3 separate regions of the Homo sapiens genome follow, and all the other regions are linked to region 1. Evidence: fine-mapped expression QTL. A gene starts in region 1. Each other region holds a variant in brackets. All regions are shown on one strand. Distances are from middle to middle.

Region 1 (2,759 bases):
TACTTTGATGATAGCAACGTGTCCCTGGCCTCTGAGGATCAGATAGTGGTGAGTAGGCCATGATATGTGGTTCTTCCTCATGTCGTTATGGATTAAAGCTGGGAAGAGCCTCTATCAGGCTAGTTGGTTATTTCATCATCCTGATGTGATAGTGGGAGCTAGGTGTGACAGAGCTGGCTGGCATTCCTTCAGGGACCTTCATAAATGAGAAGCTCAGCTCTCCTCAGAGTTCTCTGCACAAGGCTCCTTCCATTTCCTGCTGCCTGGCAGGGGCAGCCATCCTCAGGTGGAAGGGTCTCCTCTGTGTGGATATGGCAGATCCTTGAGGGTTTTGGACAGCTAGAGAAAAGCTGGGGAAAATGGGTGATTTTTCCAAGCACTGAATGGTCTTTCCCCCTCTTGTATTTCAGACTAAAGCAGCTTATGTGCTATTTTACCAACGTCGAGATGATGAATTTTATAAGACACCTTCACTTAGCAGTTCTGGTTCCTCTGATGGAGGGACACGACCAAGCAGCTCTCAGCAGGGCTTTGGGGATGATGAGGCTTGCAGCATGGACACCAACTAATGCTGACTCCACGATCCTGCCACCCTGTAGCGCCAGTGTAATCCCCCAGGAGAACATCTTTGACACTCTGCAGACTGCTAGTGTTCTGTCTAAAAACCAGACAAGGAAATACCCTTCTTTTATGAGCAGAAGGAAACAAAAAAAAAAAAAGAAGACCGTTTACCTAGAAGAAGCTATGTCAAGAGGCTGAATTATTTTTATTTTTAAACAGGTGGTGAGAAATTTCTGTGAAACCTGTGAAGCTGAAAAGGGGGTGGGATGGGGGTACTCAATGGAGTATGTCTGATGGATCCCGAAGAATGGAGAGGAACACAGGCGCTGAGTATGGAGCAGCCTGGAGACCCACCCCACCTGCAGGGCTGCCCTGAGCGCCTGGATTTCTGGTTCTGATGCCAATACTAGTCACCCCAAGTAGTCTGCTCACAGTAACCCAAACCTCAAGTAAACTCCCCTTTCCCTCGCTATGTGCACTGATATGGGTTTATAATTTTCTGAAAGTTACCCACTGAAGCCCATTTCTCCGTTGAGTCATCTTGTAATTTCCAGCTTTCTCCCCGCTAAGGAAGATATCTAGTGTTGGGGATCCTGGCCCCTCAACCTCCTGTGGAACCCAGCAGTTCTGTTATATCCCCTGCTACCCTAGATGAATTAAGACGGTTAAATACTGTGTGGAACTTTTATTAGATAACACACTTTTTATTAGATAACGCTTAAAGGAAGTCAGTACATAAAACTGCCCGGTGCTGTGTCCCGTCTAGTTGTTTCCATGTTGGCTTGAGAACAGAAATCTTTGTGGGAGTTAGCCGGGAAAGGGCTCCAGTTCATGGCGATTTAGGGTAGTAATACATTTTGGTGTTACCCAGATGCTTTCTAGAACGGGTTCTTTCCTCATCCCTGCCAAGACTCTTCCCGGGGCCCCCATTCGAAAGCCCCGTCCCCACTCCCACCGCGGGGCCAGCCGCTGCGTGTGGGCAAGGCCTTAAGGAACCGGACGTATGGGTCCGGGATTTTTTGTCTGACCTTCAACCTAATCCGTGGGGGTTTGGGGCCTGCGCGGGGCACGCGCATGCGATGACCGTTGGATGGGTCGGCGTCACTGCGCTGCGGGTGAGGACAAGGACGTGGCTGCCGACTCGCCAAAGGGGGGGTGCCGGTAGGGCCAGCGGCCTGGGAGCCGCGGTGGGGCGGGAGGCAGCGGCGGGGCGGGCCAGGAAGCTGTGGGAAGTGGGGCGGGGCGTCTTTGGGGCTTCTGGCAGATGGCGGGTTCCTCCGCGAGAGCCGAGAACCGCCTACTCCAGGAGGAAAGCCCGAGGGTTGTGGGTCCTGCTATAGCCAGGGCCAAGCTCCAGGAAATCGTGGCCATTCAGGGGTAGTTTGCAGCCTCATTTGTAACATTATTGTGTTGTCCTGTGCATTTCCAATGCATTACATAAAGACATGGTCGCTTTTAGGAGAAATGTCTGAAAAACTAAGAAGATGCAGAAAGGAACTGACTGCAGCCATTGACCGGGCCTTTGAAGGAGTTAGTTATTCCCAGGAGTGCACAGGCCAGCAGAGGCTGGAACTGAGCGCCGCGCCGCTCTCCTTCTCGCTGCCCGTGCACAGGCTCCTCTGCAGAAGACATCCTCTGGCAGCCTGCTCTTCTGCTGCTCCTTTTGCTGCTGTCCCATGTGCTCCTGAGAATGAGAACCCTGCCTTTGCAACAAACCATGCCCCGGTAAATGCAAAACCACATGCTCTGTGCCCCGAGAGAAAACCTCTAACCAGCAAGGAAAATGTATTGATGCATTCCTCCATTTTGGCACCTGAAAGAGAGTCTTGGAGAACTGCAGGAGAGGGGGAAAACTGGAGAAAAGAAAATTTAAGGTGATTCTAATTTTGATGGTTTAACAGCTACAATTAAGGGGATTCTTGTTTCTGAAAAAGTTGTTGAAGATCCTAGATTTAGTTCATGACAGTGCTCTTGCCTCCTCTTGGCAGCTCTGTGACTGCATTTGGGGAGTTGACAGACATTCTTCAGAATCTGGCCTAGGAAACAGTTATATTTTGTGTATATGTTCCAGTTGAGGGGCTAGTTGTCAATCGTTGATGTCAAAAACCAGTCATGGAAACCACTTTGCAGTACCCAAAGGGGTAGTGGATGTAAAATAACCGGGTTTTAAAAATAACCTTATTTTTTAAGTTGCAGAA
Region 2 (2,759 bases), 300 kb after region 1:
AAAAAAAAATATATATATATATATATACACACACACACACACACACACACACACACACACACACACACACATACACAAATTAGCCAGGTGTGGTGGCACATGCCAGTAGCTACTTGGGAGGCTGAAGCACGAGAACTGGTTGAACCTGTAGGGCGGAGGTTGTGAGCCGAGATTACACCACTGCACTCCAGCCTAGGTGACAGAGCGAGACTGTGTCTCAAAAAAAAAAAAAAAAATCCCCTATATGTTCAAAAAATTATTGTTAGATGCTCAAAGAATTACTGCAGTCTAATGGAGAGAAGCCAACCACAGTTTTGTTGGATGAACAATGGCCTGTTGATATTCTGCATTCCATGAGCACATGGGCTATGTGCCTTGTTATATCTGTGTCAAGGCTGCTATGAGAAGCAAAACTTGTCTGAAGTCCTCCTGGTTGTCTAGAACACACATTGTTCTAATAATACCTTATTAGATTTTATATCTGGCCTATTCTGCCTCTTCCAGACCCTGACAATGGTAAATCCTGTTTCCCAGGATTCACTCTCCAGGGATAACTTGGCTTACTGACTTCCCCAAAAATGAGGCTCTTGAATCATTTTAGGGAAGCCAAAGCAAAACCCGGAGACCCAGAGGTTGTTCAATTTTTCTCCTCCTGGGAGCCTTCACCTAATAGTGGCAACAATGCCCTCTCCTTAATTAGCTAGGTGTGCTTGCTACCATTTTAAAGAACAATACAGGCCGGGCACGGTGCCTCACGCCTGTAATCCAAGCACTTTGGGAGGCCAAGGTGGGCTAATCATGAGATCAGGAGTTCACAACCAGCATGGCCAACAAGGTGAAACCCCGTCTCTACCAAAAATACAAAAAATTAGCTGGGTATAGTGGCGGACGCCTGTAATCTCAGCTACTTGGGAGGCTGAGGCAGGAGAATCGCTTGAACCCAGGAGGCGGAGGTTGCAGTGAGCCGAGATCGCACCACTGCACTCTAGCCCAGGCGACAGAGTGAGACTCTGTCAAAAATTAGCTGGGTATGGTGGCATGTGCCTGCAGTTCCAGCTACTCAGGAGGCCGAGCAAGGATAATTGCTTGAACCTGGGAGGTGGAGGTTGCAGTGAGCCGAGATCGCACCACTGCACTCAGCCTGTCAGCCTGGGTGACAGAGTGAGACTCCATCTCAAAAAACGAAACAAAACAAAACAAAAAACCACATTCCCTACGGTTGCCCATATAGGTGGTATAAAACA[T/C]ACAGCAAAGAAAGAGATGGCAGTTTTTTGTTTGTTTGTTTGTTTTTGAGACGGAGTCTCACTCTGTTGCCCAGGCTGGAGTGCAGTGGTGCGATCCTGGCTCACTGCAACCTACACCTCCCTGGTTCAAGCGATTCTCCTGCCTCAGCCTCCCGAATAGCTGGGACTACAGGAGTGCGCCATTGCGCCTGGCTAATTTTGTATTTTTTTTTAGTAGAGATGGGGTTTCACCATGTTAGCCAGGATGGTCTCGATCTCCTGACCTCATGATCCGCCCACCTCGGCCTCCCAAAGTGCTGGGATTACAGGCGTGAGCCACCGCGCCCAGCCAGTTTTTTTTTTTTTGAGACAGAGTCTCGCTCTATCGCCCAGGCTGGAGTTCAGTGGCACAATCTCGGCTCACTGTGACCTCCACCTCCGGGGTTCAAGTGATTCTCGTGAGATGGCAGTGAACTCTGGGTGTCAAGGGATATGGACACCCAGGGGGCTTCTTAGGCACTAGGAATGTGGTGGGTGCTGGGATGTTTGTCATTATTCTTTAAACTCTGTGTCTTCTGCATTGTTCTAAGTGTATGATACACTTCTCTCTCTGATATATACAAAGAAAAAGAGAGCGAAAGAATGTGGCCCCACAGAAGAAATATGCCACTACCCATGGCCTATCTTCGTTTGGCACTGCAGAGTCAATGTTGCTGTCTAAGATCCTGGCATGACCACTCTGATTGAGAGGGCTCCTGGGGCCGGGAGCGGTGGCTCACACCTGTAATCCCAGCACTTTGGGAGGTCGAGGCAGGCGGATTGCCTGGGGTCAGAAGTTCGAGACCAGCCTGGCCAACATGGTGAAACCGCATCTATACTAAGAATATAAAAATTATCCAGGTGTGGTGGTGGGCGCCTGTAATAGCAGCTACTGGGGAGGCGGAGTGAGAATCGCTTGAACCCAGGAGGTAGATGTTGCATTGAGCCAAGATCACACCATTGCATTCCAGCCTGAGCGACAAGAGCAGAACTCCATCTTTGGAAAAAAAAAAAAAAAAGTACAGGCTCGGTGGCTCATGCCTATAATCCCAGCACTTTAAGAGGCCAAGGTAGGCGGATCACCTGAGGTCAAGAGTTGGACACCAGCCTGGCTAACATGGTTAGACCCCGTCTCTACTAAAAATATAAAAAAGTAGCCAGGTGTGGTGGTGAGTGCCTGTAATCCCAGCTACTCAGGAGGCTGAAGTGGGAGAACTGCTTAAACCCAGGAGGTGGAGGTTGCAGTCAGCCAAGATCACACCACTGCACTCCAGCCTGGGCGACAGACTGAGACTCTGTCTCAAAAAATAAAGAAAAGAGGGTTCCTGGAAATAGCATTTGCATAGGCCCTTACAAAGCAAAATTCTCGGTCGGGCACAGTGGCTCACTCCTGTAATCCCAGCACTTTGGGAGGCCAAGGTAGGGAGATCACCTGAGGTCAGGAGTTCGAGACCAGCCTCGAACATGGCAAACCCCCATCTCTACTAAAAATACAGA
Region 3 (2,759 bases), 69 kb before region 1:
GAGCATCCTTTGTGGATGTCATCATATACCCCCAAAGGCCAAAAGGAATATTAAGTATGCCTTTGCTTTCTACACTAGTTGCTTAAGTTTCCTTCCCAGGGAAGTATCTGCAAGCATGACCCTTCATGTTCTTGTGACACTTTTTTTTTTTTGAGGCAGAGTTTTGCTCTGTTGCCCAGGCTGGAGTGCAGTGGCTCGATCTCGGCTCACTGCAAGCTCTGCCTCCCGGGTTCACACCATTCTCCTGCCTCAGCCTCCCAAGTAGCTGGGACTACAGGTGTCCACCACCACACCGGGCTAATTTTTTTGTATTTTTAGTAGAGATAGGGTTTCACGGTGTTAGCCAGGACGGTCTTGATCTCCTAACCTCGTGATCTGCCCACCTCAGCCTCCCAAAGTGCTGGGATTCCAGGCGTGAGCCACTGCACCCGGCCCCTGTGACACTTTTACCACACAACATACAATACTGTATTACATATGTAACCATCCTTCATCCCTAACCACACTGTGAACCCTGGAGGGTAGGGACCATGAGCACATAATACTCAAGTACTATTAGTCCAGTGAAGAAATGACTAATAGCCGGATCATTCTTTCTTTCATTTATGCAAGAAATGCCTACTGAGAATTCGCACTGTGGAAAGGGCAAAGGATACACGCAAATTAACGTTAAATACTGGTTCATGGTTAAGACTGTGATGGTAATAGAATTACAGGAGGAAGACAAGACACTGGCGGCACCTGGGCCCAGGCTGCCACACCCTCTGCCCGAAGAGGGCTGGCCATCAACACAAGTGGCATAACCAGAATGGAATCTGTCCATTGGCACAACTCCTCCATATAAAAAAAGTGATCCCACTTCCTCTCTGTGAGACTTGTTCAGTTTTTTGCCTCTATTATCTTCTGCAAGAACCTAATCCTTATATAACAGAGGTTAGAAATCACTGAGAAGACATTTAATTCTTCTAAAGTGTGCTTCTAGAATCTTTTTCTTTTCACAGTCCCCTGGGCAGGTTAAGGAGGCACAGGTGAGAAGGAACCAAAAATATTTCTCCCCTGTTGCCACCTCCAATTAAAATATGTCTAATATTTGTGAATACTGCCACGTGTGCTCTGTTAGTGCTGGCCAAGTGTGGACCAAGAATAACTTGGGAGAGCCAAGTCCTATCAGGTGTAAAGAAAACTGTGGTAGCAGCTAAGACAAAAACCTTATGATTTGGAATAAAATAAAGCTTAAAGGCCAGGCGTGGTAGTTCAAGCCTGTAATCCAAGCACTTTGGGAGGCCGAGGCGGGTGGATCACCTGAGGTCAGGAGTTCAGGAACAGCCTGGCCAACATGGTGAAACCCCGTTTCTACTAAAAATACAAAAATCACCTGGGCGTGGTGGCCGGTGCCTGTAATCCCAGCTACTAGGGAGGCTGAGGCAGGAGAATCCCTTGAACCCAGGAGGCGGAGGTGGCAGTGAGCGGAGATTGCGCCACTGCATTCCAGGCTGGGTGACAGACTAAGACCTTGTT[T/C]CAAAAAAAAAAAAAAAAAAAAAGCATAAAGTTCACACACCCAGACATTATTAATCTTTTTTTTTGAGACGGAGTTTCGCTCTTGTTGCCCAGGCTGGAGTGCAGTGGTGCAATCTTGGCTCACTGCAACCTCCGCCTCCTGGGTTCAAACTATTCTCTTGCCTCAGCCTCCCAAGTAGGTGGGGCTACAGGAATGCACTACCATGCCCAGATAATTCTGTATTTTCAATAGAGATGGGGTTTCACCATGTTGGTCAAGCTGGTCTCAAACTCCTGACCTCAGGTGAACCACCTGCCTCGGCCTCCCAAAGTACTGGGATTACAGGTGTGAGCCACCGTGCCCGGCCTGACATTATGAATCTTTTTTTTTTTTTTTTTTTTTGAGATAGGGTCTCGCTCTGTCACCCAGGCTGGAGTGCAGTGGCGCAATCTTGGCTCAGTGCCAGCTCCGCCTCCCGGGTTCATGCCATTCTCCTGCCTCAGCCTCCTGAGTAGCTGGGACTACAGGCACCCACCACCACGCCCGGCTAATTTTTTGTATTTTTAGTAGAGACGGGGTTTCACTGTGTTAGCCAGGATGATCTCGATCTCCTGACCTCGTGATCCGCCCTTCTCGGCCTTCCAAAGTGCTGGGATTACAAGCGTAAGCCACCGCGCCCGGCCAACATTATGAATCTTTAATTAGACATCACAGTCCAAGATCAACTAGTATGTGACCAATAAGCCAGGTTTTCTTCTAGCTCCCTTCCTGGTTTCTCTTCTGTTCTTGTGGCCCAAGGTCCTCTGGTAATGGATGGATTGTCCACTTCTGGGATCTTGGTGTCCTACCGGGCCTATGGTTCTCTCTAGGATAAAGTGGCTCAACATAGAACACAGCTCTGGTGCCAAGATGTCTCTGAGCTGAATCAGTCACCCTTGTCATTTCCTCCCAAGTCCCTAGGTCACTACCACAACAGGAACACGCAGGCAGATGTTCATTGTTTCCAGTTCTCTTTTTTGTTTTATTTTTGAGACAGGATCTTGCTCTGTCACCCAGGCTGGAGTGCAGTGGCACGATCATAGGATCACAGCTCTCTGCAACTTCAAACTCCTGGGCTAAAAAGATCCTCCCACCTTGGCCTACTTAATAGCTGGGATTACAGGTGCACGTCACCATGCCAGGCTAATTGTTTTATTTTAAATTTTTAAATTTTTTTTTCCTTTTTTTGAGATGAAGTTTCACTCTTGTTGCCCAGACTAGA

Which allele goes with the higher level. Alleles are on the strand shown, and positions count from the first base shown. SD is a standard deviation of normalised expression in the study named. Not every link is listed here.
For the expression in monocytes after R848 of the gene that starts at base 1,630 in region 1, C is the low allele of the variant in region 3 and T is the other (large effect, 1.4 SD a copy in Quach 2016).

What was found. PIP is the estimated chance that this variant, and not a neighbour inherited with it, causes the effect. A credible set is the group of variants that fine-mapping cannot tell apart.
Region 2: its variant is the best candidate, but not a certain one, in a credible set for the expression of C3orf62 in whole blood (TOPMed, PIP 0.89).
Region 3: its variant is the best candidate, but not a certain one, in a credible set for the expression of C3orf62 in monocytes after R848 (Quach 2016, PIP 0.77).

Annotation. Positions count from the first base shown.
Region 1 is chr3:49,276,103-49,278,861 of GRCh38, reverse strand. C3orf62 (chromosome 3 open reading frame 62) reads left to right here and starts at 1,630. Exons shown (of 3, transcript NM_198562.3): 1 at 1,630-2,435. The coding sequence starts at 1,990. It overlaps USP4 (ubiquitin specific peptidase 4), which reads left to right. Exons shown (of 22, transcript NM_003363.4): 21 at 1-48; 22 at 411-1,718. The coding sequence ends at 569. RefSeq lists a silencer at 1,607-1,806 and an enhancer at 1,947-2,016.
Region 2 is chr3:48,975,734-48,978,492 of GRCh38, reverse strand. All of the region lies in intron 11 of ARIH2 (ariadne RBR E3 ubiquitin protein ligase 2), which reads right to left. Among named protein-coding and RNA genes, the nearest start is that of P4HTM, 13 kb to the left of the region's middle. The variant T/C (reference allele first, on the strand shown) is at 1,245.
Region 3 is chr3:49,344,969-49,347,727 of GRCh38, reverse strand. No RefSeq gene overlaps it. Among named protein-coding and RNA genes, the nearest start is that of USP4, 6.3 kb to the right of the region's middle. RefSeq lists enhancers at 2,014-2,103, 2,194-2,313. The variant T/C (reference allele first, on the strand shown) is at 1,519.